7 linked regions of the Homo sapiens genome follow. The protein of the gene in region 1 purifies or fractionates together with the protein of each later gene. This does not show direct contact. Each region holds a gene or a part of one and is shown in the gene's direction. Other genes may lie near its edges.

Region 1 (4,499 bases):
CCATCATCTCAGCCCAAAAGCTTCTTAAGCTGATAAGTAACTTCTGCAAAGTTTCAGGATCCAAAATCATTGTGCAAAAATTGCTAGTATTCCTATACACCAACAACAGACAAGACAAGAGCCAAATCATAAATGAACGCCCATTCACAATTGCCACAAAAGAATAAAATACCTAGGAAAACAACTAACAAGGGAAGTGAAGGACCTCTTTAAGAAAAACTATAAACTGCTGCTCAAAGAAATCAGAGATGACACAAACAAATGGAAAAACAGTCCATGCTCATGGATAGGAAGAATCAATATTGTGAAAATGACCATACTGCCCAAAATAGTTTATAGATTCAGTGCTATTCCCATTAAGCTACAATTGACATTGTTCACAGAATTAGAAAAAACAGTTTTAAAATTCATATGGAACCAAAACATAACCCAAATAGCAAAGGCAATTCTCAGCAAAAAGAACAAAGCTGGAAGCATCATGCTACCTGACTTCAAACTATACTATAGGGCTACAGTAATCAAAACAGCATGGTAGTTGTACGAGAACAGACACATAGACCAATGGAACAGAATAGAGAACCCAGAAATAACACCGCACACCTACAACTATCTTATCTTTGACAAACCTGACAGAAACAAGCAATGGGGAAAGGATTCCCTATTTAATAAATGGTGCTGGGACAGCTGGCTAGCCATATGAAGAAAATTGAAAGTGGACCCCTTCTGATATGGTTTGGCTGTGTCCCCACCCAAATCTCATCTTGAAATGTAGTTTCTATAATCTCCATGTGTCATGGGAGGGACCTGCTGGGAGGTAATTTAATCATGGGGGGCAGTTACTCTCATGCTGTTCTCATGATAGTGAGTGAATTCTCATGAGATTTGACGGTTTTATAAGGGGCTTTTCCTCCTTTTGCTTGGCACTTCTCCATGCTGCTGCCATGTGAAAAAGGACATGTCTGCTTCCCCTTCTGTCGTGATTGTAAATTTTCTGAGGCCTCCCAAGCCATGCTGAACTATGAGTCAATTAAACCTCTTTCTTTTATAAATTATCCAGTCTTGGGTATGTCTTTATTAGCAGCATGAGAGCAGAGTAAAACACCTTCCTTACATCATGTACAAAAATCAACTCAAGATGGATTAAAGACTTAAACGTAAAACCCCAAACTCTAAAAACCCTAGAAGAAAATCAAGACAATATCATTCAGGACATAGGCTCAGGCAAAGATTTCATGATTTCATGACAAAGATGCCAAAAGCAACTTCAACAAAAACAAAAATTGACAAATGGGATCTGATTAAACTAAAGAGCTTCTGCACAGCCAAAGAAACTATCAACAGAGTAAACAGACAACCTACAGAATGGGAGAAAAGTTTTATAATCTATTCATCTAACAAAGGCCTAATGTCCAGCATCTACAAGGAACTTAAACAAATGTATAAGAAAAAAAGAACCCCATTAAAAAGTGGGTAAGGAACATGAATAGATAATTCTCAAAAGAAGACATACATGCAACCAAGAAACATATGAAAAAAAGCTCAACATCACTGATCATTAGAGAAATGCAAATCAAAACTACAATGAGATACTATCTCACACCAGTCAGAATGGTGATTACTAAAAAGTCCAGAAACAACAGATGCTAGCGAGGTTATGGAGAAAAAGGAACACTTTTACACTGTTGGTGGGAGTGTAAATTAGTGCAACCATTGTGGAAGACAATGTGGTGATTCATCAAAGACATAGAGGCAGAAATACTGTTTGACTCGGCAATCTGATTACTGGGTATATACCCAAAGGAATATAAATAATTCCATTTTAAGGATACATGCACGTGTATGTTCATTGCAGCACTATTCACAATAGCAAAGACATGAAGTCAACCTAAATGCCCATCAGTGATAGACTGAATAAAGAAAATGTGGTACATATATACCATGAAATATTATGCAGCCATGTATAGATGAGTTCATGTCCTTTGCAGGGACATGGATGCAGGTGGAGGTGATTAGATTATCCTCAGCAAACTAATGCAGAAACAGAAAACCAAACAGTGCATTTTCTCACTTATAAGTGGGAGCTGAATGATAAGAACACATGGACATATGGAGGGTGGAAACACACACTGGAGCCTGTCAGAGGGTGGGGAGTGGGAGGAGGGAGAGCATCAGAAAGAATAGCTGATGGATGCTGGGCTTAATACCTCGGTGATGGAATGATCTGTGCAGCAAATCACCATGGCATACATTTACCTAATAAACCTGCACATCCTACCTATATACCCCTGAAGTTAAAATATTGCAAACAGAAAAAACAAAACTTTTTTGTTGTTGGTTTTTTGCATTTCTTTTTAGGTTCAGTTTCATTGAGTTCTGCTCTGATCTTTATTCCTCCTACTAATTTTGGGTTCAGTTTATTCCTGGTTTTCTTCCTTAATATGTGCTGTTAGGATGTTAATTTGAAATATTACTACTTTTTTGATGTAGGGATTTATTGCTATGGATTTGCCTCTTAATGCTGCTTTTGCTGTATCCCTTAGGTTTTGGTATTTTGTGTTTCTATTTTCATTTGTTTCAAGAAATTCTTAAACTTCTTAATTTCTTTCTTTACTCATTTGTCATTCAGGAACATGCTGTTTAACTTTCATGTATTTGTATAGTTTCAAATGTTCCTCTTGTTATTGATTTCTAATTTTATTCCATTGTGGTCACATAAGATGATATGATTGTAATTTTTAAAAATTATTTGAGACTTGTTTTGTGACCTAACATATTGTCAATTCTGGAGAATGTTCCATGTGCTGGTGAAAATAATGTGTATTTTGCAGCTGTTATATAAAATGTTCTGTAAAGGTCTGTTAGGTCTGTTTGATTTATGGTGTGGTTTAGATCCAATGTTTCTTGATTTTCTGTCTAGATCATCTGCCTAATGCTGAAAGTAGGGTGTTGAAGTCCCCACCTATTATTGCTTTGAGGTTTATCTCTCCCTTTAGCTTTAATAATATTAGCTTTATATATCTGGGTGCTCCAACATTGGGTCCATATATATTTCCAATTGTTATGTCGTCTTGCTGAATAAATTCCTTTATTTTTACATAATGTTCTTTTTTATATAGCCTTTGTCTTAAAGTCTGTTTTATCTAATGTAAGTATAGCTACTCCTGCTTGTATTTGGATTCTGTTTGCATGTCTTTTTTCCACTCCACTTTCAGTTTATGTGTGTCTTTACAGGTGAGATGAGTTTCCTGTAGGTGGCATATAGTTGGTTTTTTGAGATGGAGTTTCGCTCTTGTCACCCAGGCTGGAGTGCAATGGCATGATCTTGGTTCACTGCAACCTCTGCTTCCCCGGTTCAAGCAATTCTCCTGCCTCAGCCTCCTGAGTAGCTGGGATTACAGGTGCCCGCCACCATGTCCAGCTAATTTTTGTATTTTTAGTAGGGATGGGGTTTCATCATGTTGGCCGGGCTAGTCTCAAACTCTTGACTTCAGGTAATGCACCCTCCTTGGCCTCCCAAAGTGCTAGGATTACAGGCGTGAGCCACCATGCCCAGCTGGGTCTTATATTTTTAAATCCACTTGGCCAGTCTATATCTTTTAATTGGGAAATTGAATCCATTTACATTCAAGATTATTTGATAGATGAGAACTTACATCTGTCATTTTATTGATTTTTTTTTTCTGCTTGGTGACAGTCTTGCCTTTATTTCTGAAGGATAGTTTTTCTGGATATAATATTCACTGACAGTTATTTTCTTTCAGTACTTTGAATGTATCACTCCATTTTCTCTTGGCCCATAAGGTTTCTGATGAGAAATCTGCTATCAGTATAAGGGGGATTCCCTTATATTTGGCTTGATGCTTTTCTCTTGCGTGTTTTTATCATTCTTCCTTTGTCTTTGCCTTTTGATAATTTGACTATAACATTCCTTAGAGAGGATGTATTTGGGTTAAATCTATTTGGGAAATTTTGAACTTCTTGGATCTGAATCTCTCTCTCTCTCCCAAAACTTGGAAAGTTTTCTGCTATTATTTTATTAAATATGTTTTCTGTGCCTTTTTCTTTCTTTTCTCCTTCCAGAATTTTTATAATGTGAATGTTTTTTGCTTACTGATGTCTCCTAAATCCTGTAAACTTTATTTTTTTAAAATTCTTTTTCTTTTTGTTTTTAAAATCCTCATGTATTATTTCAAAAGACTTGTCTTCAAGTTCAGAAATCCTTTCCTCTACGTTTTCTATGCTGTTGTTGAAAAATCGTATTTTTTATTTCATTCATTGACTTCTTCAGCTCTAAAATCTCTTTTTTTATGATAGCTATCTTTTTGTTGAATTTTTCATTTAAATCACAAATTGTTTTCCTGATTTTATTGAATTGTTTATCTGTATTCTCTTTTATCTCATTGAGTTTCCTTAAGATTATTATTTTGAATTCTTCTTCTGGCATTTCATATATTGCCTTATAATTGGTTATGTTACTGGAGAATTACTGGGTTGATTTG
Region 2 (4,499 bases), on another chromosome or scaffold:
CTTTCTTTCCTCAACCTCATTAGTGCATTGAAGTAATGGGAGATGGATGCCTTAATAATGAACACTTTGAAGAACTGGGAGGTATATTGAAAGCAAAGCTTGAAGAACATTTTAAAAATCAAGAATTACGACAAGGTAAGTTTTCCATGCTTTTATTTCTGAATATAATCCTTGACCATCTTGGCAATCATTTAAAACATTTATTTGGGTGTGTTTTAGTTAAAAGACAAGATGAAGACTATGATGAACAGGTCGAAGAGTCACTACAAGATGAGGTAAGTTATTCCCTTTGGAACTTACTTACGTGACCACTTGCATCTGAAAGACTTGTAAATGCCTCAATTTCTGATTTATGTGACTTGTCATTCTGATGTAATTATCAGTCTTTAGCAGAGGAGTCAGATATATTTCCTCTCTTAATTTATGAATAAGTAATTTGAAATTAAACTGATATGTCTTTCGGTGCTATGTGCATTTTGTTGTAATACCTCACTCAACAAAACACCTTGAGGTTTACCTAGTTCATTTACATACTGCTCACAACAACCATTTGTATTTTGTGGTGCTTTCACTATATTAAAGATGAGTAACCTAAAATTCCAGTGTTAAATGATTGCCTAGAGTCACACTGTTGACGGTCTGGGGCCTTTTTCACCATGTTACTTAGTTCTCTCATCAAACCACCTAGGACTGTCAAGCATACTTCATTGTGTGTTTAGAGTCCAGCATCTCATATGTGGCCACTTGGTGGGCCAGTGCTACCGTGTAGGTAGTACCAGCTTCCTGAAGGTGCCCACATGCTTGTAGGCCCAAATTGCCACTAACAGCGAGACCCCATTCTCCCCACCATCCACCCCGAAATGAGGATTATTCTGCTGAAAACAAAGTAAAAATAGTGAAAACACCTTTGTTTCAGAATGTAGAAATTAGAGATAATTTTTCAACCCATCTATTTTAAGTATGTTCCAAGGAAAATCTTTGCAATAAATACAGTTCTTGCCACACACCTTTGTCTTTCGAGGTAAGACTGGCCTTTGATTAGTAAGAGACATGATAACCCACACTTGAGGGTTACTCCGGTCTCTAGACTCTTGATTTACCCTTAAAACAGGAATGAGAAATTGATTTTCTGCATTTTTTAAGGTTTTTATAAATGTTACTATTGATAATAGAAAATATACTTTTTAATCCATATGAGTGTTTATGTGTATGTTTTTTTTAGGATGATAATGATGTTTATATTCTGACCAAAGTGTCAGATATTTTACACTCAATATTCAGTAGCTACAAAGAAAAGGTGTTACCATGGTTTGAACAGCTGCTTCCATTAATTGTCAACCTCATTGTAAGTGTTACCTCTCTTAATAGTTGTTTTGCGTAGTTTACCTGGAATTCTTTTCACTGCAACGTAAAATCTAATGCTTGAAGTTAAAATGGGTCTCAGAAATGATTGTTTCCATTGTACATCTTTGATTTTATCAAGTTGACTGCATTACCCTGGATATTTTCTCATTCATTATATGCTTGAAGATTCCTAACTTGGTTTTCCATAGGCCAATTCAGTTCTAACACATCTGAAAGATATATAAGTGATTTTTTTTATTATTTCAGATTATCTGTGCCCTCCTAAATTAATAAAAGGAAACAGAATGGTTACTTCTTTTTTAGTGGACCATAGATAATTCAATTATCTTTGTTATGTACTACCAGCAATCATGGATTATGGATAATGGGCATATATATATATATATGTATTTTTTTTTTACCTTCTCTCACCCTTATATTTGATTTTTTTAAAATGTTTTATAGACTTCTTTTTGTTTGTTTGTTTGTTTGTTTTTCTCAAGATGGAGTCTTGCTCTGTCGCCCAGGCTGGAGTGCAGTGGTGCAATCTCGGCTCACTGCAACCTCCGCCTTCTGGGTTCAAGCAATTCAGACGCACGCCACCACACCCGACGAATTTTTTGTATTTTAGTAGAGATGGGGTTTCACCATGTTGACCAGGCTGGTCTCCAACTCCTGACCTAGTGATCCACCCGCCTCGGCCTCCCAAAGTGCTGGGATTACAGGCATGAGCCACTGCGCCCAGGCCTACGCTTCCTATTTTAAAGCAGTTTTAGATTCACAACCAAATTGAACAGGAGGTACAGAGATTTCCCATGTGCCTCTGCCCCTGTGCGTGCATGGCCTCAGCACCATTAACACCCCCCATCACAGTAGTAGATACATGTGTTTCTGTTATGGACCTACATCAACACATCATATAATGGCCTATGTGTATTCAGTTTTTTTGTTTGTTTTGTTTTTTTGTATTTTTAGTTGTGTTTTTTTGTTGGGTTTTTAGTAGAGATGGGGTTTCACCATATCGGCCAGACTGGTCTCAACCTCCTGACCTTGTGATCCGCCCACTTTGGCCTCCTAAAGTGCTGGGATTACAGGCGTGAGCCACCTCGCCTGGCTGTGTATTCGGTTTTTAAAAAATATATTATAAATTAGCAGCTATCATCAGATGTTTGGAATTTTTCTTTTTGGCTTTCAATTTTGCATTTTATTGTATTAAGTAGTGCAGTACATTTTTTAAAAGATTCGGGCACACATGACTTAGCCTGTTGAATAAATGCTATAAGTTAAGATCTTTGCAGCTTTTATTATTATTGTATTTTTTTAATGTAGCATTACCATTGTCTTTTTTACAAAGTAAATTTATATACAATGCTTCCACTGTCAGTTCTTCTGTGTGATAGTGTCAGATTGTAGAGTTCTGTAACAAATCATACAAGTCTTTGAAACCTAAATTTTATTAAATCTGTGTATTTGATTGAATATCGTTGGTCACAAGAAGTGGTTGTTACTATGTTTTCTTTTTTCTTTTGCCTGTATGAGGAATATCAATGTAAGCAGATAGTCTATAGTGAATATTTCTTTACATTCTTTGTGTACACCAGTATTTGAAGCTTAAAAGAGAATTTCTTTTGTAGTGTCCACATAGACCATGGCCAGACAGACAATGGGGATTATGCATCTTTGATGATGTCATAGAACACTGTAGTCCAGCCTCATTTAAATACGCAGAATATTTCTTAAGACCAATGCTCCAATATGTATGTGACAACAGCCCAGAAGTCAGGCAAGCAGCTGCATATGGCCTGGGAGTCATGGCACAGTACGGTGGAGATAATTATCGCCCTTTTTGTACAGGTACGTTTGCTTATTCCGTTACGTGCATTTCATTCCAGACATCCTGTGAATCCCTACTTTACTCTCTTTACCACACTCCCAAACATTATTTGCCTATTTCTGCTGTAGTCTGTTTTCAGACATCTCATCTGTAGCATTTAGGATTTTAGATGATAAAAAGATGATTTATTCTCATAGAAATAGAATCAAAGACATCCCCTGCCCCCAGCCTTCCAGGGTGCATTTCTCTTTGCGTTTTGGCAATATACAACAGCCTTAGAATAGGACTTTTTTTTTTTTCTTTAATTGAGGCCCAGGCTGGAGTGCAGTGGCATGATCTCGGCTCACTGCAACCTCCGCCTCCCGGGTTCGAGCAATTCTGCTTCAGCCTCCTGAGTAGCTGGGACTACAGGCGCATGCCACCACGCCTGGCTAATTTTTTCTATTTTTAGTAGAGATGGGGTTTCACCATGTTAGCCAGGATGGTCTCGATCTCCTGACCTCGTGATCGGCCCACCTCAGCCTCCCAAAGTGCTGAGATTACAGGCGTGAGCCACCACACCTGGCAGAATAGGACTTTTAAAACTTACTGGGGAATATAGTTAGGCAGCTTTTAAAGTTTAAGGACCCTCGGGTGATGTGATGAGTACTGTAAATCTGGAGGCCACTAATCTCTCTGGGTCTCTAAGTTAGTAGAGGGCTAGTGCTCCTGTCCATGCTGGGGCAGTCCCCCCTCTGTTGCCATTCTGTAATGACATAGCCAAGAAGACAACACTTCCCATACACTTTAACATTTCTTTACCATAATCAATATCTGAACCAAATACAAAAATACATATATTCATTTGCATGAAAATGTGAGGTTTTAGCTGAACTTCTTTCAAATGCTTATTTTAGAAGCACTTCCCCTGCTGGTAAGAGTTATTCAGTCTGCGGATTCTAAGACCAAAGAAAATGTCAATGCTACAGAGAACTGCATCTCAGCAGTAGGGAAAATCATGAAGTTCAAGCCTGACTGTGTAAACGTTGAAGAGGTCCTTCCACACTGGTTGTCTTGGCTTCCACTACATGAAGATAAAGAAGAAGCTGTTCAGACTTTCAATTATCTGTGTGACCTGATTGAAAGGTAGGAAAGCAGACTGTGACCTTATTTCCTTCTCCTCCACAGTGCTTCCTGGTTTTTCTTGCCTAACATCAGTCTTTTAAGGTTTAACCACATGATCTCTGCACAGTCCTCAGTTGTATAGGTTTATAATAGTGCTGTCTTTATAAATCATATTAAGAAACCATATCACAGTTAACATTGCCCTTATAATAAGGTC
Region 3 (4,499 bases), on another chromosome or scaffold:
TTTTTTTAAGGAGCTAAAATACACAGAACGAAACAGTGGTTACTACTGGTGGTGGGGAAGGAGAGGAAATGGGGAGATATAGGTCAAGGATACAAAATAGCAGATATGTAGGATGAACAAGTTTAGAGATACAGGGGGACCAATGTTAGTAAAATTGTATTAGAGATTTTTGTTAAATAAGTGGATTTTAGCAGCTCTTGTTAAAGTATGTGAAATGATAGCTATATTAATCTGCTTCACCATTTTGCTGTCTATATTCCATAGCATCATGTTGTAAACCTCAGTTGCACAATGAAATTTATTTTTTAAAAAATTAGGGTGCAATAAAATGTGTAAATTCTTTACACTCATAAGTATGAGTATAGGTGTTAACTTTGAAATCGTATCAGAAAAAGTATATGATATTTGATTTATACATTTTAATTTCTACGGAGCATATTTTATTTAAATTTATTGAACTTGAAGCAATTTTCGTTCTTTTCAGCCTTCACCTTCAGCCTATACCAGAAGTTCCCAGACATACAAGAGCTTTGTGTTCTTACATAAGTGCTACTAACCTAAAGCCACATTTCAAAAGCGGTTTGCCTATAAGAAATTAGGGAAGTCATCACAGTGTGTTATTATCCTAACCTATGGTCATGTATCTTTTTATGTGCCTCAGATGCATGATGGAGTTGGTGGAAGGCAGGAGATTAGTAGAGAACTTCGAAAGAACAGAAGGATCATTTGCATTGGACAGTAGTGTTTCACAATAGAAATTGATGTCTGGGAGAATGCCCCTCAAGCTTTCCCTTTTTCACTTTAAAGAAGCTTGTTTGCTTCCTCTCACTTCCATAACGTCTATATTGGATAAAACACTAGTGGTTATTATAACAAAAATAAACTTTGCAGTTGGAGGAACACTAATATCTGAGACAGTAGAAATGACATGAGTAAAGAAGGGCTGCTTCAGACCATTATTAACTGGTGACTTGATGTTTTTCTTTTGGCTTGCTGATGGCGATCCATGTCCCTATTTCAGACCACACTTTTCCCATCAGTGATACTCTTACACTAATAAACATATCCCAAGGGCAAACAGGTACACTAAAATGAGCTTATTCCTATCTTTCAAGACCATGATGAAAACTATCCTAATGAGTCTTCACTGATTACTAAAACCAGATGGCCAGTCAGCATCTGAATTCCTAAATCATTCTGTATTATTCATGAGACAGCATATTTCCTTAAGTATTAATGTTTGGGTCTGTAACTTTTTTTTTTCCACTCCTCTCAGCTCATACCTATGGGTACATATTCTTAATACTATGTTTTTAAACTGCATGGGGTAATGGGACTTACTAATAACTAATAATTCTTTTTTTTTTTTTTTTTGAGACAGAGTCTCGCTCTGTCAGTGGTGCGATCTCCGCTCACTACAACCTCTGCCTCCCAGGTTCAAGCGATTCTTATGCCTCAGCCTCCCAAGTAGCTGGGACTACAGGTGTGTGCCACCATGCCCGGCTAATTTTTGTATTTTTAGTAGTGACAGGTTTTTGCCACGTTGGCCAGGCTGGTCTCGAACTCCTGGCCTCAAGTGATCCACCCACCTCAGCCTCCCAAAGTACTGGGATTACAGGTGTGAACCACTGTGCCCAGCCTCTAATGACTCTTAAATTCCCTGAATGCATCTGTGTCATTACCCCCATTCCCACCCCCACTACTGGGATGTCTAGCAAAATTCCTTGCACATCGTTTTTGAATAAATCATACATTATTGGATTTTTTGTTTTCAAACATTTTAATTAATCATTAGAATGACATCTTAGCTGGAAGTGAAACCTTCCATCTGTGCTCCTCTGTACTGCTACCTCCCTACTCTGGCCCTCTACTTCCCGCTGGCCTGTTAGTCAGGAACTACAGCGTTAATTGAAATTGAGTGATCTGCTAAGGTTAATCTGACTTTTCTGGTTTTCTAAGGTTATCAGTGACAGGGGTTAGGCTTGGACTGCTAAGATTATTCTCTGCCACAGGAGATAACCTGGTATGAAATTGGACTGGTGTGTTTTCTTACATGTGTCTTCCTATTTTTCTGATTCAATTCCTTTCCCTTTTTAAAACCCACTGACTCTTAAAAAAACCTACAATCTTTCTGTCGTGTAGCTAGTTTGGTTTTTTTTTTCTTTTAGCTGTGCTGTTAACAGTTCTGTAGTAGCTGTGACTACCCTTTGGGGACTGGGGAAGAAATGGGAAATGTTGAACATTTGGAAGCTGCAGCTAATATGGGATTGTTCTTTGGGGGCGGGTCTCTTAGTCACAGTACTGTGACTGTATTGATACATGTAATCTGAAGAGAATCTTAGAATATTTCCACCAGAAAGGTTTTTGGAGATAAACTAGTTTTCATTTTTATAAATGTGGAAACTTGAGTCCCAGATCACCATAAGTGACTTATCTAGATTCATACAACTTGTCAATGGCAGCCAGGAACCTGACATGCTTAGCATAGAAATCAGACTATCAAGAACTATGACAGTAAAGGAGGAATTCTCTGTTATTTTGGAACCGTATACCGCTTTTTACAGCCCAGTCAAGATGTAGGAAATTGCTTCTTACTTCGGAGAAAGGCACCAGCGAGCAGTGTTACAGAGCTTGATTAGAATGATCCCTGGTAAGAAGTGCTATGTTACTACAAGTTCACCAAACCTAAAATTGTGGGAGGAAAGTATTCTTGTTTCTTAGTTAAGTATTGGTGTAAAGAGTTCCTTTTAACATCTGAAATCAAGAGGCAATTGAAGATTTCAAAGGACCCATCAGGAATTTTGGAGTTCAGGGCAGGCAAAGAAAATCTTTAGAAAAGATTTTAAATGGCCTAATTCTTTATATGCTTTGCCACATTTTTCTTCTGCTAGTTCATCTTTACACGTCACTATATAGGCTTCTGGAGAATAGCATGTGTAAATTTAAGTAATAAAGATGAACCATGTGGCAATACAGTTGTTCTTTAGGTACAATTATGTGATTGATTATGGGGGTGGGATGGAATAGGGGCATTTGTGACCTAATAGTTCCCTTTTCCCTGAGGACTAGGACGATAATGTTTCTGTATATGGATTTGTTAGGGCTTAATAGTTTTCCAAGTGCTTCAAGACATGTTAGCTAATTGGATCTTCACAGGAACTCTATGAGGTAAGCAGGATAGAAAGGTGGCAGATTATTGGTTTATAGGTGAAGAATCTGAGGTTGGATTATTTGCCAAGATCACATGGTTAATAAGGAGCATAGCCTGGGCCAAAGCCCGAATCCCTTCACTCCCAGCTCTCTAAGTGCTGCTGACAGATGTTTGCTGATTATGGTGTGAAGTTGTATACTTTAGTATTTCTTTCTGAGACATACAAACCCCTGTAGTAAAATTCTTTCCACTACTACCAAAGAAGCTCAAAAAACTTAAAATAGGCACTTATTGCTTCCAAAAGTACCACAGAAAGCCAGGAATCTGTATTCATTGCCTAGCCACTTGATTCTTATGACAAAGATTTTGAAACTCTGGGGAAAGGCTATGTGTCAACTTGTTTTATGTGTCATGATTGTTAAAATGCTAGAGAAAACAGCAAAGAGCCAGTTAAATCTGTGTCTGCTCAAATAAGACAAGGGGCAAGAGTGTGGAAAATCCAGAACAAGATTCCCTGAGAGATCATCTAGACCCCGTTCTTTCTAGTCAGAAGTATAGTTGTGATTAATATGACATTAATCTTTTGCAAAGTTTAATTCTTGGATTCAGCCATCTGCTTTAATTTTAACACATCTGTTTTGTAACCTAAAATAATTTTAAGGTGTTTGTTTATTTGTTTGTTTGTTTTGAGATTACGATTCTTAAGAATAGATACAAGTTTTAAACCTTGGATAAAACTAATTTTTATTCTTCTGGTTCAGTTGTAGAACAAATACAGGTTAAGTTGTCTTCCAGCTCTTTTAGATAAAGCAATATTAGTGGTTTTATAGTGCTAAGTGAAAAGAGACATTAGAATTTCACCATATTAAACTATCTCCCAAGAGTAATATGAGTGAGGGAAGTGTTCCTTTTAAAAGTCATGCTTCTAGGCTGAGCATGGTAGTTCATGCCTGTAATTCCAGCACTTTGGAGGCCAAAGCAGGAGAATTGCTTGAGCCTATGAGTTTGAGGTTATAGTGCACTATGATATCATTACCCACTACAATAAAACACGAAGTTCAGATGGTCATTCACTAGGGTGTGTGATATTTTGGAGTATAGACCTTAAGTGATTATGACATATCAAAATAATGTGGTCTTATGTTTCTTTTTTTTTTATTGCAGATTTCATTGAATATACTTCTATTAACAGCCTGCTATATATCAGGCATTCTGATAGGTGTTGGAGATACAAAAAATGAATAAAGCAAAAATAGTTCCTGCCCTCACAAACAAGTAAATAAGTGATTCATCTATAGTGTGATTAGTACTGATAGAAATATGCCATTTTGTGTGTACATTATTACTA
Region 4 (4,499 bases), on another chromosome or scaffold:
GTGAGTAATCATTGTACCTAGTGAAACATGATTACTGTATTGAAATGAAATGATTCTCAGAATTCTAGTGATATTGGATCAGGTGATAGCAGATACCCTGGAAATGACAACTACTTTGAGCTTTTTTCCATAAAGAATTTTTATCGAAAATGAGAATGCTTATGGATATAGTAAGCACTTAATAGACGACTGTGAGATACACAACTGTGATCTGTAGCATATAGTAACAAAATCTGTGTAAGGCCTGTGTTCCCAAGGCTTTGCTCTTAATGTTATGTTTAAAAGAGTTCACAAAAATATTATACTGATGTTATTAAAATCTTTGTTTTCTAAACCAAGATGTTGAAAATGTCATTATTACATATTTTTAATTGCAGCAGTGGAAGAAACAGGAGGAGATTCTTGGAAATATAGTTTGAGGGTAAGTATTAATTGCAAGAAAAATTGATAGGGGAAAGCTTAATCTTTCTAAAGCTCTTAGTAGAGAATGACACTCTATTAAAGATTCCAGACATTTGCTGGGCATGGTGGCTCACACTTTAATCCTAGCACTTTGGGAAGCCAAGGTGGGAGGATCGCTTGAGGCCAGAAATTCAAGACCGGCCTGGTAAACATAGTGAGACCCTGTCTCTGCAAAAAGTAAAAAAAGGAAAAAAAAATTAGACCAGAGTGGTGGCGCATACCTGTAGTCCCAACTCTTCAGGAATCTGAGGCAGGAGGATTGTTTGAGCCCAGGAGGTTGAGGCTGCCGTGTGCCATGATGATGCCACTGCGTTCTAGCCTGGATTACAAAGCAAAACCCGTCTCTTAAAAAAAAAAAAAAAAAAATTAAAGATTCCCAACATTAAGTCAGACAGATAAGAAACTGTTTATAAGAAACTAAGAACTATATTCATATTAAATTATGACGTTTAATCTGAGTTTTTTTTCTTTTTTCTTTTTCTTTTTTTTTTTTTTTGAGACAGAATCTCACTCTGTTGCCCAGGCTGGAGTGCACTGGTGCATCTCGGCTCACTGCAAGCTCCGCCCCCTGGGTTCATGCCATTCTCCTGCCTCAGCCTCCCGAGTAGCTGGGAATACAGGCGCCCGCCACCACGCCCAGCTAATTTTTTGTTTATTTAGTAGAGACGGGGTTTCATCTTGTTAGCCAGGTTGGTCTCGATCTCCTGACCTCGTGAGCCACCCGCCTCGGCCTCCCTAAGTGCTGGGATTACAGGCGTGAGCCACTGTGCCTGGCCTTTTCTTTTGTTTAACTTGGGGTCGGAAAACAAATTTTTTCTTCATCTTTTAGTACATTGCTTGGGAAATAATTGTCATTACACAAATAGAAAATGTTTGTCAAACTGAAAGCTGCCATTCTTAAGCTAGAATTTTTTCCTTCTATATATTTCATTAGTAAAGTTTCTTTTGGTATGTTATTTCTCTTACCACTTCATGTGATTCTCAGAGACTAGCCCATTGCTTTCAGTTATAGGATACTTTTACAACGCATTTATTAATATGACAAATGTTTTGCCGTTACCAGATGTGATGTTTGAGCTCTTCTTTTTAAGATTTGCACTTACATAATTTACATAATTAGCTATTTGTCTTCTAAAAATGTTATCTTTAATGTTTTTAGATTCATAAACATACAGTTGTTAACCAGAGAGATTACTGGTGATTTTAAAACTTTAAAAAATTTCATTCCTTTAATTTTTAAAAGTTTCTTTTATGGAGAAGTTTAAACATATTAAAAAATAGAATAATATAATGAGCCCTTCATGATAAGCTAGTTTATTAGTTATCAACTCATGGCTACTTTAGCTTCCTGTAAACATCTCCCAGTGTTGATGGTTATCTGAGATGACACATCCTCTGACCATATTTCAGTGTGTATATTTATAATGTTCCTTTTAAAACACCACACAATACCTTAAAAATTTAATTAAAAAATTTAAATATTGTGAACGATCTAGTGATTAAATTCCTTTTTAAAATTTAAATAAAAAATTATTTTAAAAAATTTTTTGTGGGTACATAGTAGGTGTACATATTTATGGGGTACATGAGATGTTTTGATACCAGCATGCAATGTGAAATGATTCAGTACTTTTAAGAACCAAACAAATCATTTTTTTAAATGTAGCTAATGCTAATTTCTGTTACCGCTTGTGTTTGTTAAGAGAAAGGCTACTTTATTTGGCAAATTGGAGTTCCTGTTTTTGCTTATTATATCATTGCTAAGAAAATACATAATAGCTACTCGGGAGGCTGAAGCAGGGGAATCGCTTGAACCTGGGAGGTGGAGGTTGCAGTGAGCCGAAATCACACCACTGCACTCCAGCCTGGTGACAGAGTGAGACTGTGTCTCAAAAAAAAAAGAATCTTGGGTAGTCAGCCATTTATAGTACTGAGCTATAAATGAGTGGCTACAGAATGCTTTTTAAATTTAAGGTATGATTAATTTAAAATGTACACTTTGCTTGCCATAGTTTTAAGTTTTTGAATGCGTAATGACAAATAATTGAAATGAAATCAACTTTCTTTTATTAATTATAATTCGATTTTGTTTTCCTTTGTGTTGGTTATAAAAAAATGGTAACCTTACTTTTTTTTTTTAACAAATCAAAAGTTGGAAACATTTTCAAAGTTTTAGAATTTTAAGATTAAGTATTTGCTTTATTAAAGAATTAGTCAATATAGTATGCAACTGTTTTGATGAGAAATTTGTATTTTTCCCTCTCCAGCCATGCACTGAAGTATTATTTATAGATATATTCCATGAATATAATCAGACTCTTACTCCTGTACTTCTAGAAATGATGCAAACACTTCAAGGTAAGGCATATTTTGTGATTAACTTTGAGTTAATCTCTTTAACGTTTAGTTAAGAAATAGTCTGAGTGCCTACAATGCATACTGTACTGTTTCCTGGGTCATATAATAAATATGAATTTGAGAAAAACAATTTTAAAACTTATTATCTTCCAAGGGGGTGGCATTTGAGATAGGCCTTGAATTATAGTTTGGACGATGATAAATTTTCCTGTAGTAAATACAATAGAAGCAAAAGCAAAACAGTAGTCATACTGCTTGCAGAAAGTCTATCTGGAGCGTGTTGTGAGAAATAGTGAGAAAAGGTTAAAATAGTGTTAGCCTCTCTTAGAATGGTGGCAGTGGGAATGGAAATAATTGATTATGGATTTGAGAGAAAATGATGATGTAAATTTTTGACACTTGGTCATTACACTTTGTACACAAGTAACTAATTATCTGCCTATTAACTAACATTGATTTATGATTTCTGTCTTTTCTGCTAGACTGTAAGTCCTAGGGGCATTGATCACGTCTGTTTTGTTTATATTTTATTCCCAGTGCTGGGCATATTCAGTAACTATTGTTACTTGATTGACTTTTAGCAACCGATTGAATGTGCTAGGCAAGGAAAAGTGATCAAAGATGATCCTAAACTTTTGAGCCTTAATGACAAGGAAACAGTTACCTCATTAGAAGTGGTAGGAGATAGAGATATACTTTCGGAGTGCATGTATGTAAGGAGCCTTGGGAAAAGAAAAGAGGATCTTAAGGACAGAACCTGAGATTTTCACCTATAGGGATATGAGTAAATAAAAGCCTTGTAAAAATGCCAGGTGTAGTGGTGTATCCTAGAGAAGAGCATGTTGTCAGAATGAGTGTTGGCCAGGCATGGTGACTCACGCCTGTAATTCCAGCACTTTGGGAGGCTGAGGTGGGCAGATCACTTGAGCCCAGGAGTCCCAGACCAGCCTGGACAACATGGCAAAAACCTGTCGCTACAAAAATTAGGAAAATTAGCTGGGCCTGGTGGTTAGTACCTGTAGTCCTAGCTATTCAGAAGGCTGAGGTTGGAGGATCATTTGAGCGCAGGAGGATGAGGCTGCAGTGAACTGAGAAAACCTCACTCCACTGTACTCCAGCCTGGGTGACAAAGCAAGACCTTGTCTCAAAAAAAATAATTTTGTGGTATATAGCACATTAGCATTTTGTGGTGTATATTTTCTAGAATATTGCTTGTCATAACATTTTTCAAATATGCTATAATGGTTTTTAATCCTGTGTTCTCTAATGATAATCATAAAACTTAGACTTTCCCTTTGTACTTGTGTCCATTTTTGACACCATGAAATGTGTTATACTTAATTGAATTGGGAAACTAACAAATTGTGTTTAAATATAAATTTTTTAAAAAACTAGTTTTATTTGCTTTTACTGATACCTATTTATATATATATTTTTTAGGACCCACAAATGTGGAAGATATGAATGCACTGTTAATCAAAGATGCTGGTATGTTAAACTTAAGTGATTTAGAAGCATTTATTTATTCAGTAGATGGAGAGTCTGTTTTGTGGTAGATTTTGTGCTGAGGGTGTTGAGATACAAGAGTAACTAAAATACAGGAACAATCTGATTGGGGAGATAACCAAGTAAACAGATAATGTATTATAATAATACTATACAGGATAGTTAATGCTAAA
Region 5 (4,499 bases), on another chromosome or scaffold:
TAAGATGCAGATTAACCATGATATTCATTTCCTAGGGCTGCTCTAACAAAATACCACAACAGAAATTTGTTTTCTCCTACTTCTGGAGGCTAGAAGTCCAAGCTATAAGGTGTCCATGGGATTTGTTCTTTCTGAAGGCTATGAGGGAAAATCTGTAGCCTCTGGTAGCTTGCTGGCAGTCTTTGGCATTCCTTGATTTGTAAACGCATCACCCTGATCCCTGCCTTCATCTTCACATGCTCCCCCTGTGTGTGTCTGCATCCACACTTCCCCTTTCTATATCAGTTATATTGAACTAGGGGCCCACCCTATTCCGGTATGACCTCATCTGAACTAATTACATCTATGACAACCCTATTTTCTTTTTTTTTGAGACGGAGTCTTGCTCTGTCACTCAGGCTGGAGTGCAGTGGTGTGATCTTGGCTCACTGCAACCTCCACCTCCTGGGTCAAGCGACTCTCCTGTCTCAGCCTCCTAAGTAGGTGGGATTACAGGTGCGCACCACCATGCCTGGCTAATTTTTGTATTTTTAGTAGAGACGGGGTTTTGCCATGTTGGCCAGGCTGGTCTCCTGACCTCAAGTGATCCGCCCACCTCAGCCTTCCAAAACGTTGGGATTACAGGTGTGAGCCACTGCATCCGGCCAACTCTATTATCAAATAAGTTCATATCCTGGGGTTTGGATTTCCACATATGAGTTTTTGAGGAACACAGTTTGACCCATAACAACAACCATGGGCACATTATTTAATAGGCTTTAAATCAAGGGCCAAGAGTTGCCAGTGTGTGTAGGTTGCCAGCCTGCAGTCCTTGTCTAGAGGGCCCTTAGTGTTTGAGAAGGGGCACAGTAATGGAATTAGGCAGTTGTTTGTGACTTCAAATCCAGGGGAAACCAGACTGACTAAGTATTTTTATTTTAAACAATTGTATTATCATATGGACAACTTAAAGTCGAATTAAGATACTGTCCTCTTGAATATGAGTACTCTTATATACAGGGCAGGACTGATTATCTGAAGTTACGTTCTGTGCCAAGAGGAATTAGGTAAAGGAAAAAGGAAAAAAACAGACAAGAACTTTGAATTGGGCTTCACTCTGTAGAGGTCGGCAAGCTGCAGCCCATGGGCCAAATGTGGCTTACTGTCTGATTTTGTAAACAAAGTTTTTTTTCCTTTTTGACTCATTACTTGGAAAGAGATGGAGGGAAATGGCAGAATTCTTTGAATGGCAGGGAGACAGTTATGTCCCATGCTTTGGGTGTTCTGGCTTTACATGAGCGGAAAGTTAGGATGACCCTCAAAATGGGGAGTGTAAAGTCTGGTTTAGATATTCTTTGTTATGTGCTTGTCCTGCCTCCAACAATTAGAAATGTTTTGGAAAGTGAATATGTATCCAAGCAGAGGAAATAAAGCATGAGAACTGAGCTTTAAGAAAATTCCTGGTTTATTTTTATAGGTTCTTCAGCCACTTCAGCAGCGATTCTTAAGAGTGATAAACCAAGAAAACTTCCAGCAGATGTGTCAGCAAGAGGAAGTCAAGCAGGAAATCACTGCCACACTAGAGGCCCTGTGTGGCATTGCTGAGGCTACCCAGATTGACAACGTAGCAATCCTGTTTAATTTTTTAATGGACTTCCTTACCAATTGCATTGGATTGATGGAAGTTTACAAGAATACCCCAGAGACTGTCAATCTCATTATAGAAGTTTTTGTTGAAGTTGCACATAAACAGATATGCTATCTTGGAGAGGTAAGCACTTTCTAATTTTATCCCCTCAGGATTAAAACTCTTTGAAGCTGTAATAAAATAATAGATCTTTGCTTAAAATTTGATTAGTATTATCTTAAATAATATTTTTATTCCTTCAAAAGATTTTTAAAAAAGATTTTTGAAAAGAACTTATAATTTAGAGAAAGTCATGTTGAATGAATGTAAATTTTTTTTTTAATTTCTTCTAAAAGGAAACAGGATACATATACAGAACGTTCAGATTTGTTACATAGGTATATGTATGCCATGGTGGTTTGCTGCACCTGAATATAAATTCTTGTCCTAAAATTTTGTTAGAAAAGGGGTAAAATTAAAAAAAATATACTCTTAATATATGCTTTCTAGAAATTATTGTTTTAATGTAGTTTAAAGCAAGAATTATTGCTACTGTTGGAATTCGGAGTTAATTTATATAGATTATATTTTAAAATTTTTTTAATGTCAGTGTACCAAGTAGCATAATTTGTGCATTTTTTTTTTTTTCAGTCCAAAGCTATGAACTTATATGAAGCCTGCCTTACTTTGTTGCAAGTGTATTCTAAGAATAATTTAGGGCGGCAAAGAATAGATGTTACAGCAGAAGAAGAGCAATACCAAGACCTGCTTCTCATTATGGAACTTCTTACTAACCTGCTGTCAAAAGAATTCATAGATTTCAGTGATACAGGTAAAATGTAACGTGATGGTTTTTAAACTTTGTTGTTATCCTCCTTTTTATTAAATCAAAGGATTGTTTTCTGTAAGAGACATCTCATGAGGAAATTCAATTTATGGAATAAATGAAAGAAGATCTTTGTGGTCAAAGTGAGGGTGAGGACCAGTGGCCCTCCTGCTTGCCTTTCCTCTTGTAAGAATAATAGAAATAGTATCTCTCATTCATTGAGATCTTACTAAATGCCATGCACTGTTCTTACCTCTCACAATGGTATGAAGTCAATCCCATTGTTATTCTCACTTTATAGATGAGGAAACAGAAGCACAGAGAGCTTAAGTCACTTGGCCACAGATACTTAGCCAGGACTGGGATTCAAATCCCAGCCTGTGACTCCAGATGCCAGTCTCTTCAGAGTTACACTTCCTGACTAATCACTTCTCCATGTTCCTCACGGTGGCCACCCCAGAAACCCTAGCACTTTCCAGAGTGTGGCTTGGAAAGCCCTGTTGGTGTAGGAAGCACTCTCTCTGGAGTTAACAGCCCACACTTTGAAGACCTAGCCTAGTGTCTCACCTACAGTATGATGTGAGGGGAGTTGATTAGCCTACCTGTGTCTTTACTAGCTGGTCAAATGGGTATGATAATAAATACCTTTCAGTGTGTTTGAAGGATCAGCTGTAAAGTGTCTTTGGTGCCTAGCATTGTGTCTGACAATCAGTAGGTAAAAGATAGTTGCTGTTACAGGCAAGAACCTGATCAGTAATTTAAACCTCATATATGTGTATAGTTTTCAGTGCTGTAGAGTTCACTCCCCTCCTATCTCACTGCCAACCTTGACTTCAAACAAAATGGATCCTGTTTCATGACAGAAAAATGAATCATATCTAGCCTCTCCTATTATATGTTGTGCAGACACGTGTGGTAGTGGACATTTTTGGCTTCTTCCTTGTAAGATTCTCTTTCTAAGTTGGGTGCTATAATATCCACTTGACTTATTTATCCCAATCCTTGAGATTGTTCTGTTTCCTTAATTTTTTCGTATTCCTTATTCACTGGACCATGTCTTTTTTTTTTTTTTTTAAATTCTTGGGCAACGGTTTTTCCAATATCTGCCCTGAGCTAGGTACCATCAACTTCACAGTGTAGAAGGTTTACTCTTTATTTTTTTTGCAGTTAACTAGGGGTACCAAGGTGAGATAGTCTGAAAAGCACTGTACAAATTCACTTTTCCTCAGTGAATTCTTTCTGGTCTGTTTTTAGGCCCAGCCTTTCACCCAAGTTTTCTAACTTTCTTCAGGTCAGTTCTGCTTAATCCAGGAGTTCTTAACTTTTTCTTTCTTTCCTTGTTGTTGTTTGAGAGGCAGGGTCTCCCTCTGTCATCCAGGCTAGAGTGCAGTCGCATGGTCACAGCTCTGTGCAGCCTCAACCTCAGGCTTAAACTATTCTCCCACCTTAACCTCCCAGAGTGCTGGGATTACAGGTGTGAGCCACTGTGCCCAGCATTCTTAACCTCTTACTAATACAGTATTAGTTGGTTCATGGACTCCTGGAAACTCTTCTATACATTTTCCAGGTGTGTCAGGAACCCAGGTTAAGAATCTTGTCCCCAGAGGAATCTGTAACTAAATGTTAGGACCCAGAGCTAAAACATGTATATGTTTAGATGATTTACTGTCATGATTACTCTGTGTATCATAAATCAGCTCATTGTTTCAATTTTTTCATTTCTAGAAATAGTATCATCATTTTCTTGGATTCTTATTCTATGCCCCCACTCAGGCCCCATCGCAGACCTACTAACTCTAGAAATCTATATTTTGACTAAGTTTCCTAGTTGTTTCTGACATACTACCAGATTTGTCTTATTTTCAGAATAATTTTCCTAAAATAGTGATTCCATCGTGTTTCCTACCTACTTAAGTACTACAGTAGATCCCAGCGCTGGGCAGCGTTAATAAGAGAAAGGAGAAGGGACAGTCCACATTTCTAGAATATTCTATAATCCTATCAAAAAAGGAAGGATTATAATAGAAGTAAACATTTAGAGAAATGATTGTGGAGCTGTGGCCAGTT
Region 6 (4,499 bases), on another chromosome or scaffold:
TAGTTTATAGAAAAGAAATTTTTCCCCCTATTTTCTTTTCAGTTCCAGTTAAAGTTGAAATCTCATTGAGGAAATGATTACTTATCTATGTTATCAGATAACTTATTTTAGCATTTAACTTTGTGGTTTTATTAAAGGAATATTTTCTTTTTCTGTTTTATGTCTCTTCTGTTGCCTTTTTCATTTATTTCTTTGGAAATAGCTCTTAGCTCTCCTCTTCAGGAATTGCCTCGCTAATAATACATGTTTCTTTCTTATACTTGGGGTACAAAAATTAGTATCTCAGACTGCTTTGGATAGATTCAACATACGATGTTGGGTTTTAATTGATAATGGATGAGTTCAAGGTTTTGGCCCATAGAGAAGCTTCCCACCATTATGTAGGCCTTCTTTGTACTTACTTGTACCATCTTTAGACTAGGTTTATCTGTTTGAAGTGTTATTTTTTCCCCCATTCAGGATATGGTAACCAAAATATGAGATATAATAAGCTGGAAATTTTACAGAGTGGAGGTAGATTCATTGGAGTTTTTTGAAAATTTTAAACTATTTAAAACAATTTTTTTAAACTGTATTTAGGATAAGATAGTTTGAAAGGTTTCATTCATTTTAGAAACTCACCCATTCTGTTTATTTTCAACAAGTTGAGCCACTGAGGATGTTTTTTAGATATGTCTTTTTCCCCTACCCCACATATGTAAGTATATAATACACGTAAATAGAAGATAACAAACTTTTATGTAAAATATTAGAGGTCTTTGAAACACAGTATTTATAATTACTTAGATTTTGGACTTTTCTTCCCTACTTTGTAGAGTCCAATTAACAATGTGTCTCCGTGCCATCATAAAACATGATTTTCCTGGTCACTGGCCAGGAGTGGTCGACAAGATAGACTATTACTTGCAATCACAGAGCAGTGCAAGCTGGCTTGGCAGTTTATTATGCCTGTATCAACTGGTGAAGACATATGAGTAAGTTGGTTTCCATTGGCTGAAGAAAGCAGCCTTGTGTAACTTAGAAATAATGAAGTTGCAAAGAGTGGTCTGTTGTGGATGTTCTGCACAGGTTATCAGATTAGTTTGGGAAATGTTGGGTTAAACATGCTTAAATGTGTTTATTTGCTGCAGTTATTGAAAGAAACTTTAATGTGCTGATGGATATTGCTAACCTCTGAGACAGTGATATAATATGAAGCACTTCTCAAACTTGTTAGTTGCACAGTACCATTTATTAACAGCTTTCCTTGGAAACTCTGATATAGAGATACCTTTATATTTGTCTTCTAGGGAGTATATTAAGTAAACCAAAACATTTACTTTTTTGGATGCAAGATAGAAAATGTTAACGTTTCTTTGCTAATGACATTCTTTTCCATAAAAGTAGCTTGGGTAGGTAGAGGACTAATATCACACTTAATAGTATTGCTTTCTGGTTTCTAGGAAGATTGCTACATGTGTATATGAAGTCCTGTAGTTCTCCTTTTAAACTGACTAGTTCCTACTCTGCTTATGAAATTTATAGAACATATTTTAGATTTATGGCAATTAAAGCAATCTAAGAGCACCTAAATTTTAAACTATTTTAACTACTCAATTCAGGGAGAAATATAATAAGAAAATTCCCCCCATATTATTTGTTATATAGTCTATTTAAAATAGCATAGCAACTTATATTTTATAGTAAGAATTTTGGCTGGATGAAAATTAATTTAAATACTAGAAACATTCATGTAGGAAAACTGCAAAATGGTCTCGGGTTGTTTTAAACTAGTCTAAATCTTTCCAGAAAGATTTTAGGTGTTGTGCCTAAAACAGGATGTGTTATTTTAAATTTCTTTTCAACTTAATTCTAGCAATTCAAACAAACTAGAAGCCAATGTTAATGACTTTGTTTTGTTAGTTTTATGTATTTAAAAAATATTTTATAATTTATTGTTGATGGTTCTTTGGGTGGGAAAAATTACTTTTCTGTTTTTGTCTTTGCTCATGTAGATATAAGAAAGCAGAAGAGAGAGAACCTCTTATAATAGCAATGCAGATATTCCTGCCTCGTATTCAGCAACAAATTGTTCAGCTCCTTCCTGATTCCTCCTATTATTCTGTATTACTGCAGAAACAAATTCTGAAAATCTTTTATGCACTTGTTCAGGTAGGTTTCTATTGCAGAAAACAAACATGGAGTCCTGTATTTCTGCCTGACACATGGAAAGTGCTCAATAAGTGTCACTTATTATTAAAAATTATTTTGTATTATCCCATATATTTCTTTAAAAAATGCTTATGAGGAACAGGTTCACAGAAATTAATTACCCAAGATCGTCTCAATGGCATATCTGCCCCTAAGTGCTTTTCACTCCAGTGTCTGAAATCATGGGTAAAGCAGAACCAGGGTAGGTAAACCTACCTGCTCTAAAACCTGATTACTCGCAACTATCTGTTCTGTAGCATTCCTGCCTATAGATTAGTTATGATTACAAGAGAAGAAGAAGGAAAAGAAGAAGGAAAAGAAGAAGGAAAAGAAGAAGGGAGTCCCTCTTCTATTGGGAAATCATATTGATGGTAGTTTCTTTGCATTTGACTCAAAGCTAACAGAGGATTTAGGGTTCATTTTCCTTGGTTTAAAATACTGCCTAAAAAAAAAAAATCTGAATGCTATAAGGGATACCAACATGGGAATCCGGAAAGAAATGAGAAGATAGAGATGGAATATGTTTGAAATATAAAAATATTTAACATCAAATCCTTGAAAGATTTGGGTAAATTATTTAGGTCTGATTGGAGGAAGAATAATTGTTTTCAGTCTTAACTGTTTGATGAATGAATTAAACTCTATTACATGCTTTCTAGTTGAATTTGTCGTGAGAAGAGGATGGTTTTGTTGAGCTCAAAAACCATGATAGTTTGGATCCATCCTTGGCTTTTTATTGACTTAGATACTTAAACTATTTCAAAATATTTTACTTTAATAAAGATTTATATTTTTATTAAAGCTTCCCCTTTTAAACTTTTAATAGGGATAGTCTGAGGCAGATATTTTTTTTTTTCCCCCAGAGCAGCCTTTTTGCAGGGAAAGAGAAGAGGGAAGGAGGCAAATGTGAGAAGAGAAGAAACTAGAATACTAGGAAAATATGTTCTCTCACTTGTTTTGAAATAATATTCAGAGGCCAGACTTCCTTTTTCTATTGGCAGAAACAGCTAGAAATTGGGAAGTAAGACAAAGGCTAATGAAATAATTTTTCTAAAGCCTCTACCTCTAATTGGTTTGCTAAGACGACAGAATCTTCATATTTTTCTCAGTCTATACTTGCTAAAAACCTGGAAAACCTCAACATTTTTAACCATTTTGGTAATCTGTTATGTACTAATACATTAATATTCTCCTCTGGGAAGTAGAAATTTAGAAGGCATTAGGAGCCACTATTACAATGCTGACATAAGTAAAAAGCGATAATATGAGAAGGAGCAGACAATTTTGTTTTTAAAAGTATGAGCAGCCGGGTGCAGTGGGTCAGGTCTGTAATCCCAGCACGTTGGGAGGCCAAGGTGGGTGGGTCACCTGAGGTCTGGAGTTCAAGACCAGCCTGGCCAACATGGTGAAACCCCATCTCTAGAAAAATACAAAAATTAGCCAGAAATGATGGCGGGTGCCTCTAATTCCAGCTATTCCAGAGGCTGAGGTGAGAGAATTGCTCAAACCCAGGAGGCGGAGGTTGCAGTGATCTGAGATTGCACCATTGCACTGCAGCCTGGGTGACAGAGCGAGACTCCGCCTCAAATAAAATAAAAGTATGATACAACAGATCTTGTCTAAGTAGCATAATATTTGTACAGGACACTTGGATATTCTATACATAAGCTCAGCCTAACCCTCAGCCTACTTCTCCTCTGTTCCCTATATCAAATCCAAATGGCTTCCAAATGCACTTAGAATAAAGTGCATTTGAAACTTCTTAATATAGCCCATAAAGCCCTTCATCTCCTCACCTTCTTCTCTTATTCCTACCTTTGTACATGTACAGTCATGTGTTACTTAACTTTGGGGATGCATTCTGAGAAAATGCATTGTTAAGTAATTTTTGTCCCTCTGTGAACATTGTAGAGTGTACTTACACAAACCTAGATGCTATAGCCTACTACATACCTAGGCTGTGTGTTGCTCCCTGGCTGCAAACCTGTACATGTTACTGTACCAAATACTGAAAGCAGCTGTAACTCAATGGTAAGTAATAGAAAAGATATGCTAAAAATGCAGTATAAGATATTTTTTAAAAAGCACTCCTGTATAGGGTACTTACCATGAATGGAACTTGCAGGACTGGAAGTTGCTGTGGGTGAGGTAGTAGTGAGTGAATGTGAAGGCCTAGGACGTTAGTCTATGCTTATAAATGTTGAACATTTAGGCTACACTAAATTTATAAAATTTATCTGCAATAATAAATTAACCCTAGCTTAGCTTACTGTAACTTTTTTACTTCATAAACTTTAAATTTTTTTTTT
Region 7 (4,499 bases), on another chromosome or scaffold:
AAAATACAGTTTTATTTCTTCCATTATTTTATTTTATTTTTTACAGAGGTGAGGTCTCACTATGTTGCCCAGGCTGGTTTTGAACTCCTGAGCTCAAGTGATCCCCCTGCCTTGGCCTCCCAAAGTGCTGGGATTACATTGTGTGAGCCACTGTACCAGGCCTCATATTTCTTCCATTCTAACTTTATACCTTTTATTTCCTTTTCTTGTCCTGTTATGCTAGCTTAGACTTCCATTACAATGTTGCACAGGAGTGGTTAGAAGGGACATCTTGTCCATTTCTGATTTTACTTTCTAACCATGAAATATGATATTAGCTATTTTTTGGTAGATATTCTTTAGCAAGTTGAGGAAGTTTCCCTTTTATTCCTAGTTTGCTAAGAGTTTTTCATATGAATCAGTCTTGGGTTTTGTCAAATACTTTTTCTGCATTATTGGTATGATCATATAATTTTTTCTTTAGCCTGTTGATATGATGACTTACATTAACCAATTTTTGAATGATAAGCCAGCCTTGCATATGTGTAATATGCCTCTCTTGGTTATGGTATGTAATTTTTTCTGTATTGTTGGATTATATTTGCTAATATTTTCTTGAGGATTTTGTATCTACTTTAATGAGTGATATTGATCTGTAGTTATCTTTTCTGGTAATGTCTTTATGCGGTTTTGGCAGTAGGATAATATTGGGCTTGTAGAATAAGTTAGAATGTGTTCCCTCTGTCTACTTCTACTTTCTGGAAGAAATTGTAAAAAACTGGCATTATTTATTCCTTAAATGTTTAGTAGGATTAACCAGTGAAACCATCCGAACCTGGTGCTTTCCTTTTTGGAAGGTGATTTTTTTCTTCTTCTTTTTTTTTTTTTTTACTAGTTATTGACTCAGTGTCTCCTTCCTTCCTTCCTTCCTTTCTTTCTTTCTTTCTTTCTTTCTTTCTTTCTTTCTTTCTTTCTTTCTTTCTTTCTTTCTTTCTTTCTTTCTTTCCTTCCTTCCTTCTTTCCTTCTTTCTCTCTCTTTCTTTCTTTCTTTCTTTCTTCCTTTCTTCCTTTCTTCATTTCTTCATTTCCTTCCTTTCTTTCTCCCCTCCCCTCCCCTCCGCTCCCCTCCCCTCCCCTCCCTTCCCTTCCCTTCCCTTCCCTTCTCTTCCCTTTCTTCCTGCAACGTCTTGCTTTGCTGTCCAGGCTGGAGTGCAGTGGTGCGATCATGGCTCCCTGCAGCCTTGACCTCCTGGGCACTAGCGATACTCCCACCTCGGCCTCTGGAATAGCTGGGACCACAGGCATGCACCACCATGCCCTGCTAATTTAATTTTTTTTTTTTTTTTAAGAGATGGAGTCTATGTTGCCCAGACTCGTCTTGAACTCCCTCGGCTCAAGTGATCCTCCCACCTTGGTCTCCCAAAGTGCTGGGATTACAGGCATGAGCCACCATGCCTGGCCCACTAAAGCACTTCTTTTTATGTTTCTCGCACAGCAGGTCTATTGGTGAAAGGTTTGTCTGAGAAAGTCTTTATTTATACTTCACCTTTGAAGGAAAATTTTTCTGGATATAAGATTCCATGTTGGTGTTTTTCTCTTTTTTAAGTTTCAATGCTTTAAATATTTCACTTCACTCTCTCCTTGCTTGCATTGTTTCTGACAAGAAGTCCAGTGTTGTTCTTGTTCTTCTATATGTAAGGTGTGTTTTTTTTCCTGTGACTTTTTTCTGTCTTTCTTTTCCCTCCCTCCCTCCCTCCCTCCCTCCCTCCCTCCCTCCCTCCCTTCCTTCCTTCCTTCCTTCCTTCCTCTTTCTCTCTTTTCTTTTCTTTTCTTTCTTTCTTCTTTTGAGATGGGGTCCCACTCTGTTTCCCAGGTTGGAGTGCAGTGGTATGATCACGGCTCATTGCAGCTTCACCCTAGTGGGCTCAAGCCCAAGTGATCCTCCCACCTCCGCCTTCCAAGTAGCTGGGGCCACACGCGGGTGCCACTAAGCATGGCTAATTTTTGTATTTTTTGTAGAGATGGTGTTTCATTATGTTGCCCAGGCTGGCCTCGAACTCCTGAGCTCAAGTGATCCACCTGCCTTGGTCTCTGAAAGTGCTGGGATTATAGGAGTGAGCTACCATGCTTGGCCATCTTTGTCTTTCTAAAGTTGAAATATGATATGGCTAGACGTGGATAGGCATATTTGGATATTTATCATGCCTGGTATTCTCTAAGCTTCCTGGGTCTTTAGTTTGGTGTCTATCATTAATTTTGGAAAATTCTCAGCCATTATTTATTCAAATTATTTCTTCTGCTCCTTTCTCTTTTCTTCTTCTTGTATTCCCATTATATATCTGTTACACCTTTTGCAGTATCCCACAGTTCTTGGCTATTCTGGGGTTTTTTTTAAATTCTTTTTTCTCCTTGTATTTCAGTTTGGGAAGTTTCTTTTTTAAAAATTGTTTGTGATAGGGTCTTGCTCTGTATCCCAGGCTGGAGTGCAATGGCGGGATCTTGGCTCAATGCAACCTCTGCTTCCCAGGTTCAAGCAATTCTTGTGCCTCAGTCTCCTGAGTAGCTGGGACTACAGGTGTGCACAACCATGCTGGCTAATTTTTGTTTTTTAAGTAGAGACGGGGTTTTGCCATGTTGGACAGGGTGGTCGCCAACTCCTGACCTCAAGCAATCTGCCCACCTTGGCCTCCCAAAGTGCTTGGATTATAGGTGTGAGCCACCACACCGTGCCCAGTTTGGGAAGTTTCTATTAACATCTTCAAGCTCACTGATTCTTTCCTTGTCAGTTTCTTTTTTTTTTTGAGACGGAGTTTTGCTCTTGTTGCCCAGTCTGGAGTGCAGTGGCGTGATCTCAGGTCACTGCAACCTCCGCCTCCTGGGTTCAAGTGATTATCCTGCCTCAGCCTCCCAAGTAGCTGGGATTACAGGCATGCGCCACCACCCCTGGCTAATTTTGTATTTTTAGTAGAAATGGGGTTTCTCCATATTGGTCAGGCTGGTCTCGAACTCCTGACCTCAGGTGATCCACCCACCTCGGCCTCCCAAAGTGCTGGGATTATAGGTATGAGCCATTGCGTTCAGCCTCCTTGTCAGTTTCAAGTCTACTGTTGAACCCACTGAAGGCATTCTTCATTTCTTTAATGGTGTTTTGAGCTCTAGCATTCACTTTTGGTTCGTTCTTAGCATTTCCATCACTCTGCTTATATTATCCATCTGTTTGTGCATGTTATCTGCTCTTTCTGTTAGTGCTCTTAACATTTTAATTATAGTTTTTTAAAATTCCCTATATGATAATTCTAAAATCTGTGTCATACCTGAGTCTGGGTCTGATGTTTGCTTTGTTTTTATGTATTTTTTAGCCTTGTAATTTTTTAGTTGAAAGAGAGATATTATGTATCAGGTAATAGGCTTTTATTATGCGGCCTTATGTTAATTTGGCTAGGAGCTGGGTTGTGTTTAATGCTTATTGTAGCTATAGGTGCCAGAGACTTCAGTTTCTCTAGTGTTTTTTTCTCTCCTTTCCTATTGTCTTTGGGTTTCCTTATGAACTCCTTAAATAGGTTCTGTGCCTTGTAGCTCTCTCACTTATAATCTTCTGTTATTATACTGGAGCCCTGTTGATGTGGTAGTAAAGTGTTGGAGGAGAATCTGTTTATACTTTTATGATTAAATCTTATTCTTTTAGTGGCCTGAGCCTCTGGACTGTGGCCTTCAGAAGTGTTTCTTAGCCTTTTCTCTTTCTCTCTTCTTAAGTAATACAGAAAGGCTATAGACAGCTGGAGTTGGCTAATTTTCTTCTCTCAGGTCAGATAAGGCTCTGACATCTTCCCTTGAGATGGAGGGAATAATCTAGGTATATTTTAAAATGATTACTTCTTTCCATCCCCCAGAAAGAGGAGGAGATTTTTCTTGGCTCTTTACTGTGAGAATCTGGTGGGGTTCCTGGAAGTAAAACTCATGACAGTGTGATAGCATCCCCAAGACTGGGTCCCGAGGATGAAAACCCATGAAAGTGTGGTAAGCATCCCTAAGACCAGGACCTGAGGAGGTTTTTATTCTCAAGCTAGTCCACACTCATCCTTTAGCAGTTTGTCGGAGTTACTGCTTAAGTACTTCTACTGGTTTATGACTCCAGCAGCTTCTGCATGAGGTGATTTGATCTTAGCTGTAATTTTCTTAATCTCCTTCTTTCTCCAGTTTTCTGAGTGGCAGTTTGCCCTGTCACTTCAATTCTCTGAGGAATCTAAGAAAAGCTGTTGATTTTCAATTTGTTCAGCTTTTGTTCTTATTATAGGGTGGGAGTGATGACCTCTCATGTGAGAGGGAAACCTGGAAGTCAATAGTGGCTTTGGAAATGGCAGTTTATTTTTCTTTCACACTAATGTAGCCAGCCCAGGGCAGATATGGCAGCTAGCTCTGTGATCATCTGGGACCCATGATCCTTTTATCTTGTCACTCTGCCATCTTCAGTATGTATCGTCCACCTTGTGTTTGGAAATGGCTTATCCATCTCCAGTCAT

What was found.
Region 2: the proteins of CD200R1 (region 1) and IPO5 purify together in Homo sapiens (co-immunoprecipitation; one large-scale study listed by IntAct). This does not show direct contact.
Region 3: the proteins of CD200R1 (region 1) and KIF2A purify together in Homo sapiens (co-immunoprecipitation; one large-scale study listed by IntAct). This does not show direct contact.
Region 4: the proteins of CD200R1 (region 1) and IPO11 purify together in Homo sapiens (co-immunoprecipitation; one large-scale study listed by IntAct). This does not show direct contact.
Region 5: the proteins of CD200R1 (region 1) and XPO4 purify together in Homo sapiens (co-immunoprecipitation; one large-scale study listed by IntAct). This does not show direct contact.
Region 6: the proteins of CD200R1 (region 1) and IPO8 purify together in Homo sapiens (co-immunoprecipitation; one large-scale study listed by IntAct). This does not show direct contact.
Region 7: the proteins of CD200R1 (region 1) and NCR3LG1 purify together in Homo sapiens (affinity purification with mass spectrometry, with the first as the bait; one large-scale study listed by BioGRID). This does not show direct contact.

Annotation. Positions count from the first base shown.
Region 1 is NC_000003.12:112,933,604-112,938,102, reverse strand, and holds part of CD200R1 (cell surface glycoprotein CD200 receptor 1 isoform a precursor), read left to right. Parts: intron 1-4,499. UniProt on the Homo sapiens protein: Inhibitory receptor for the CD200/OX2 cell surface glycoprotein. Limits inflammation by inhibiting the expression of pro-inflammatory molecules including TNF-alpha, interferons, and inducible nitric oxide synthase (iNOS) in response to selected stimuli.
Region 2 is NC_000013.11:98,015,507-98,020,005, forward strand, and holds part of IPO5 (importin-5), read left to right. Parts: intron 1-23; coding exon 24-135; intron 136-219; coding exon 220-275; intron 276-1,222; coding exon 1,223-1,345; intron 1,346-2,978; coding exon 2,979-3,198; intron 3,199-4,074; coding exon 4,075-4,303; intron 4,304-4,499. UniProt on the Homo sapiens protein: Functions in nuclear protein import as nuclear transport receptor. Serves as receptor for nuclear localization signals (NLS) in cargo substrates.
Region 3 is NC_000005.10:62,308,714-62,313,212, forward strand, and holds part of KIF2A (kinesin-like protein KIF2A), read left to right. Parts: intron 1-4,499. UniProt on the Homo sapiens protein: Plus end-directed microtubule-dependent motor required for normal brain development. May regulate microtubule dynamics during axonal growth. Required for normal progression through mitosis. Required for normal congress of chromosomes at the metaphase plate.
Region 4 is NC_000005.10:62,485,042-62,489,540, forward strand, and holds part of IPO11 (importin-11), read left to right. Parts: intron 1-377; coding exon 378-421; intron 422-2,729; coding exon 2,730-2,820; intron 2,821-4,260; coding exon 4,261-4,308; intron 4,309-4,499. UniProt on the Homo sapiens protein: Functions in nuclear protein import as nuclear transport receptor. Serves as receptor for nuclear localization signals (NLS) in cargo substrates.
Region 5 is NC_000013.11:20,794,015-20,798,513, reverse strand, and holds part of XPO4 (exportin-4), read left to right. Parts: intron 1-1,456; coding exon 1,457-1,750; intron 1,751-2,257; coding exon 2,258-2,438; intron 2,439-4,499. UniProt on the Homo sapiens protein: Mediates the nuclear export of proteins (cargos), such as EIF5A, SMAD3 and isoform M2 of PKM (PKM2). In the nucleus binds cooperatively to its cargo and to the GTPase Ran in its active GTP-bound form.
Region 6 is NC_000012.12:30,678,134-30,682,632, reverse strand, and holds part of IPO8 (importin-8), read left to right. Parts: intron 1-815; coding exon 816-974; intron 975-1,994; coding exon 1,995-2,151; intron 2,152-4,499. UniProt on the Homo sapiens protein: Involved in nuclear protein import, either by acting as autonomous nuclear transport receptor or as an adapter-like protein in association with the importin-beta subunit KPNB1.
Region 7 is NC_000011.10:17,361,784-17,366,282, forward strand, and holds part of NCR3LG1 (natural cytotoxicity triggering receptor 3 ligand 1 precursor), read left to right. Parts: intron 1-4,499. UniProt on the Homo sapiens protein: Triggers NCR3-dependent natural killer cell activation.